2 linked regions of the Homo sapiens genome follow. The protein of the gene in region 1 interacts with the protein of each later gene in a pairwise test. Each region holds a gene or a part of one and is shown on either strand. Other genes may lie near its edges.

Evidence for each region.
Region 2: the proteins of IGSF21 (region 1) and UBE2V2 interact in a two-hybrid assay, tested with the Homo sapiens proteins (one large-scale study listed by BioGRID and IntAct).

The regions. Positions count from the first base shown.
Region 1 is NC_000001.11:18,289,298-18,292,951, reverse strand, and holds part of IGSF21 (immunoglobulin superfamily member 21 precursor), read right to left. Parts: exon of another isoform or gene 3,422-3,654; intron 1,898-3,421; exon of another isoform or gene 1,087-1,897; coding exon 965-1,086; exon of another isoform or gene 1-964. UniProt on the Homo sapiens protein: Involved in synaptic inhibition in the brain. Selectively regulates inhibitory presynaptic differentiation through interacting with presynaptic NRXN2.
Region 2 is NC_000008.11:48,062,804-48,065,346, reverse strand, and holds the end of UBE2V2 (ubiquitin-conjugating enzyme E2 variant 2), read right to left. Parts: 3' UTR 639-2,543; downstream 1-638. UniProt on the Homo sapiens protein: Has no ubiquitin ligase activity on its own. The UBE2V2/UBE2N heterodimer catalyzes the synthesis of non-canonical poly-ubiquitin chains that are linked through 'Lys-63'. This type of poly-ubiquitination does not lead to protein degradation by the proteasome.

The DNA.
Region 1 (3,654 bases):
ACCACTACTTTCAGGCTGGGCACCTGGCAAAGCATTTGGCGGTGTGGCGTGGAAGAGTGTGTGTGTGCAAAGCTGTGCACTCTTCATGAATGCAGTGAGATTCCCTCTGAGGAGGGGTGGGTACTGGGGCAGTTGCAGCCGACCAGCTTTGGGGGATCAGTTCAGCTAAGGTGAGGGCTCCCATGGGTGGAATTGCTGGAGTGGGGTTCTGAAGGCTGATGAGGAGTTTACCAGATGACCGAAGGGAGAAAGGCCCTTTGAGAAGAGGGACCGGTGTGTGTTAAGGGTCAAAGGGATAAAACAGGACTAGGATCTTGTAGGGAGTTTGTGGGAAGGAGATAGAGCCACACACATAGAGAACAGCAGGCTCTGGAAGATCGAGTCAGCTTGATTCTGCCACCCGCCTCCTGGAAAACAGGGATGGGGTAGGAAAATCAAGCATCTCCGACTTGAGCACTGCTCCTTCCCACCCTGCTGCTTCTGACCTGGGAGTCCAGTTGCTTGGGGTCATTCTCTCTTAAGCTCGGGGCCCTTATGGCCTTGGAGCACACAAAAAACAGTAGAATGTGGTGTTTGAGCTTCCAAGCCGGGCAGAACTGCTTCACCGCCCAGCGGTGTCATTGTTGCCTGTGTGACTTTAGGCCCATTGCTCCCCCTCTCTGGGCCTCAGTATCTCACTTGGAAATAAATGGAGTTTGGAATACCCACCTTCCAGGACTGTTGGAGGAGCTGGCAGAGGAGGCCAGTCAGAAGAGCGGTGGCCTGGCCCTCTCCTGCCTCTTCCCTCCAGGGGATGTCCCTCCAGGGAATGGGTCCCACTTCCATAAGGGGAGCCCCCAGTTCTGCCTTCCAAGCCCAAGAGCACCGAGGGATTGATGTGAAAGGGCTGGAGAACTGCCCTCTGCCCCACTCCCCATCCCTCCGCCCTTCCCCCGCTGTCGGCCCGCCACCCCCAGGCACTCACCTCACAGTGGACTGGTACACCAGGTCCTCTCGCTTGCGGTAGTTCTCCATGTGTGAGTAGTTGGTGGAGAACATGGCGTCGAAGGTGAAGATCTTTTGCTTGATGGTGCCACCATCCGTCACCTGCCACAGAGCACAGAGATAGCCACACGTGAGTGCTCAACCGGCCCTGGTCACCCCTTTCCCCAGGACACTGACAAGATGCAGGCAGGAAGCCCAGAAGAAGGACAGCCCCCATCCTGAGAATAAGGTAATAACCGAGGGCTTCCTGGAGGCAGCGATGTTTTAAGTTGCCTCCTGAAGGAAGAGTAGGAGCCAGCCTGGCAACGGGTGGGAGTTTTCTAGGCAAAGGGAACAGCAAAGGCCCTGCGGCAGGAAAGAGCAGTGTGCGCTCAGGGGAAGCTTGCTGCCTTCACAGCACCTGGAGAAGAAAGGAAGTGGGATGAGAAGAGGCTGCGAAGAAAAATGTGGGCCAGATCATGGAGGGTCTCCACAGCAAAGGAGCTCAGCTTCTCCTGAAGGCGGTGGTCCCCGGGGCCAGGATTAGATTAGATTTACAAGCTCCTCTGGCTATAGATTGAGGATGAATCGAAAGGGGCAAGACTAGAGGCAGGGAGCCCGGGAGGAGGCCAGGAATCCAACATCCCGGCACGGGCGATGCAGACGGGGACAGCGTGGGGCACTTGCCCTCGTCTTGGGATGGGCCAGGAGAGAGGACATGAAGTCCCCATTTCACCTAAGAATGCGGAAGTGGGAGAAGGCAGGGAGGTGGCGATGAAGCCAGCGCTGGAAGCCCAAGGCTGCCGGGCTGTCCCGCTGTTCATGGCTGATGGAAAGCGAACCCAAGCGTCCGTGCCCTCAGCTGCCGCCCGCCTGCTTCCCCACATCTGCGCTGCCTCCAGCTAATGAAAGTGTTACTCCACGAAGCAGCAAGGTATGTGTTGTCACTGTTTCAATTATTTATCTGTTTACTCGGCTGCAGTTTTTCCGCTTGTCTCAGCAACTCTATTATAGACTGGGAGCTTGCAGCCTCTCGCAGCTCAGCTGGGCTCTGCGCTAACAGCCTGCAATGGGGAGGCCTCATGCCTGGGCCTAGAGAAGTGGAATTAGCTCCCTGCGGCTCTGTGTGGTGGAGGCAGCGGGGAAAGGGGCAGGGAGGGGGCTGGCTAGGGACGGGTGACTCCAAGGGGCTGGGGTAGGGGGGATGCTGAAAGCAGCTTCCCCAGGCAAAAAGGTGAGGATTGGAGTGTGAATCTGTCCCCCTGTCACCTGCCTGGGAGTACTGGCCCTAGACACAGCTGGGCTCCTCTGGACACATATGTACCCAAGCTGACTTGGACCACATCTCTCTGACCTAGGTGGTGTTGCTACTGGTTTAGGAGAGACTCCGTGCATCTGGCCAGCACTGGTTGAGCAACCAGCTGTGTGCAGACACAGGCTACGTCTGTGCCAGTCACTTTCCATAGCCTGCAAGCTTTGTAAAGAGTAAGGTGGCCTCTGTGAGGACGGGGGATGGTTAGAATCATGAGAAGGCCTTCGCAGGCTCTGGGACCCTGAGAGGAAGCGGCAGTGAGACTTCCCAGGGCACGGCTTCTCCTTACCCCTCCGTAAGCCCACACCCCTCCTATCTCTGTCGGGACTTAGCGACATGTACACGCGTCACTTTCTTCCCCTCTGAGGGCTTGGCGCTTTCTGACCATGTGCAGAGGGGAGACAGAGGACCACTTCCTCCCACCTGGCTGCTTCTGCAGCACAGGCCCAGCTTCTGAAACGGGACCATGAGAGTGGAGGAAGATGAGGAGGACGGGGACAGGAGGATTCTCCTCTCCTCTTGGGATCCCTGCTGGCACTCACCCCAAGAAAGATGCTCACCCCAACCAACCACACCTTGACTCTGCGTCCACTGTCATCACCCAGAAGAATGTCCCTGAGTTGACTGTGTCCAGCTTGGCATGGGGTGGAGAAGAGAGTTGGCTGTACTTGGGATCAGAGCTTCCATCTCCCCACATCCCAATGTCCCAGCCTGGGGTAGAGGCCAAGACCCTCCAGGGGCTCCCCATTCTCCATGCACCCTCTTCCCATCCCCGCCTCACCCATTTGACTTTTTTACAGCCACCAAAGTACCTTTAAAGCAGGGCCTTTTCACTTGGGGGGTGATTTTGCTCACCCTAACCACCAGGGGACATACAGCAAGCTCAGGAGACATTTTTGGTTGTCACAACTGGGGAGGAGAGGTGCGGTTTGGTAGGTACCAGTGTCTAGCTGATAGAGGCTAGGAAGCTGCTGACCATTCCACTATGTCCAGGACAGCCCCTTGCCCCCCTCCCAAGAATTATCTGGCCCCCAAATGTCAACAGTGCCCAGGTGGAGAAACCCAGTTTTAAGCCCATCACATTGTGTGGCTGTACCAGGTCCCTGGGAACAGAGCCGAATAGACAAGAATGTTCCCATTTTGCAGGTAAAGAAACTGAGGCTTGGAGAGGCAAAATGATTCGGCTGAGGCCCCACACTAGGTTCCTGACAAGCGTCTGGCTTCTGGACCAGAGTTCACATCCCATCCCATCAGGCTGGAAGAGACTGCGGGTGAACTGAATGCCTCTCAACGTCCCTTTCCACCCCTGGTGGCCAGGCTCATTAGGAGAAAGGATGTCAGAATCTCAGTGGAGGTGTGAGGATTTTTCTCCCAAAGTC
Region 2 (2,543 bases), on another chromosome or scaffold:
GCAAATGGATCACTGCACAACACTTAACATGGTATTTGGTCAGTTAAACACTGGAGAAAGGATAATCCCTGGAATCTCTATAAGAAAACAACATCTATCAGCCTTTATCATTTACTTCACAAATTAACCTGAAGCAAAAACTTTTCAGATGGTCTTATAGACTACACAGAAATATGAGATGCCAGCCAGGGGTGGTGGCTCATGCCTGTTATCCCAGCATTTGGAAGGCTAAGGCAGGAAGATCACTTGAGGCCAAGAGTTTCAGACCAGCCTATACAACAGAGACCCAGTCTCTACCAAAAACAAAAAACAAAACAACAACAACAACAGCAAAAACAGACATGGTGGCGTGCACCGGTAGTCCCAGCTACTCAGGAAGCTGAGGCGGGACGATCACTGGAGCCCAGGATAGCCAAGGGTAAAGTAAATCGTGATCGCACCAATGCACTCCAGCCTGGGTGATAGTGCAAGACCCTGTCTCTAAAAAAAAAAAAAAAAAAAAAAAAAAAATTTAATTTTAAACATGAGATGGAGCAGATTCTTAGGAATTTTTTAGATGAAAAGATCCTATTAAGGATATAAACACCATAGCAACCTCCTCATATCCAATGGTTTTTTTCAATCATGTAACTCACTCCTTGAGTTTGCACAACTCCTTTATTGAAACAAAATGGACTTTAACTTGTCACTTATTTCCTATATCATTAAATACCTTCATTAATTTTCTCTTCAGAAAATACTTATTGTGTATCTTTATTTTCAACACTCCACAATACTTTTAAATAAACAACATTTTCAGTATGAACTATGGTAAGATTTCATCATTCTATAAGGCATATTATTTAGGAGGTATTCCTTCCTATGCATTTCCTATTTTACAGTAAACTCAGTATCAGGTAAAAATTAACTGCTAATGTTCCTATCAACAATTCATCCATTCCTTTTTATGACACTTTTATCTTGTATACAAAAAAATACACAATTTTCCCAAACCTTGAGGAGTTGAATTTTGTGTGTGTGTGACAATAATTAAAAGCCAGTCAAGTTGGTACTGGAAAATCATTTTGATACTTATCAGAAAAGTAAAAGCAGTGCTTTTCGATCCATCCCAGCAATAAATGATACTATGATATTACACATACAGATGCCTAAAAAGCATACTATAAAAGGAAAATTCCTGAAATGCCTCCAAAATCCTATTATGCATACTAGACTTTATCATCAGTACTTATATTCTTCAAAATGTACCTAATACAGTCACATGCTCATTAAAAGAGTTGATACAGTTTTGATGGCAGGCTACAGTTCCCTGCTGTCTTTCCATGATGCATCAGCAGAACCATTCAAAGCCACACACACCAAACCTATTAAGAAAAAAGCATTCATAATTCCCAGCTGTGTCCTCTACATTTTCCAAACAATATTAATTTCACATGTATTTATCAATATTATATATTTAGTGGGAATTAACATTAAAATCAACATATTGTTCTTAAGTAATCCAGACTAATAAACCATGAGTCAAACAAATCTACTCTGCGAAAACCTCAAATCACTCTGTGTGATAAATTATTTTAATAACATAAAGCTATAAATTTTCTCTATTTTTATATCCAAGACTAAATACCATTGACTATCCTTCAAAATGTTTATGTTCCAAAATCCTGTAGTTACACATAAACCCACAACAAAAGACATTACTTTAGAATGGTAGAAAAAAATATTTTTAAAAATTGTCAATTCTTAAAATTGGTTAAGTAATTAAAACCATTAAATCATAACACTGACCTAACAGGACAAGAAGTTTCTTTTGGTAATCTTTATTAGTATATGATCATCCTCAAGGGTCTCACTTGCTAGCCTTTTAAACAAATTTCTAAGGCAAATTTACAGTTCATTTAAAAGGTAATAAATACCACACACTCCTACAACCTTAGCCACTTTACAAAACAAAGGAAAAATTTCTTCCAAATGTTATTATAATTAAGAGCTTTTCTATATTAATTCCTCTTACAGTCTCCCAGTGTGTCTTAGATTGCCAAGTACATCTTGATTGTGACATGCAAAATGGATTCTGCTTTAGAAATGGGTTAATTGGCATGCAGATTTCTGCAGAGATCCATAATCCCACAAACAAGAGGGGAAATGAACATTATAGGGCTGACTCTGACAACATGTACTTGGCAGGGGAAGGCGGCAGGGGGTTGGCAACTTCACAATGGTGGATTTGGGGGAAGGAAACAGGACAAGAGACTGAGGTACCCAGACCCTCATCCTGCCAACAGCATTCACGTAGTTACTAGCTTCCATGTATAATAAGACACATTTTCAAAATGGAAAGGAGGTTATCAGAGAGACGGATTCAGATCATCAGTTACCATTAGACTACAGTTTCATTCAATTTAATCTTTAACCATTAAAAATTTTTAAAGACTATATTTCAAGGTAATAGTTCATTTCAAATTTAACAAATTACAAATGCACTAATTTGTATGTATGTGTATGTTCTCTATGTGTCATCTTAAAGCATTTTAAACATTTTT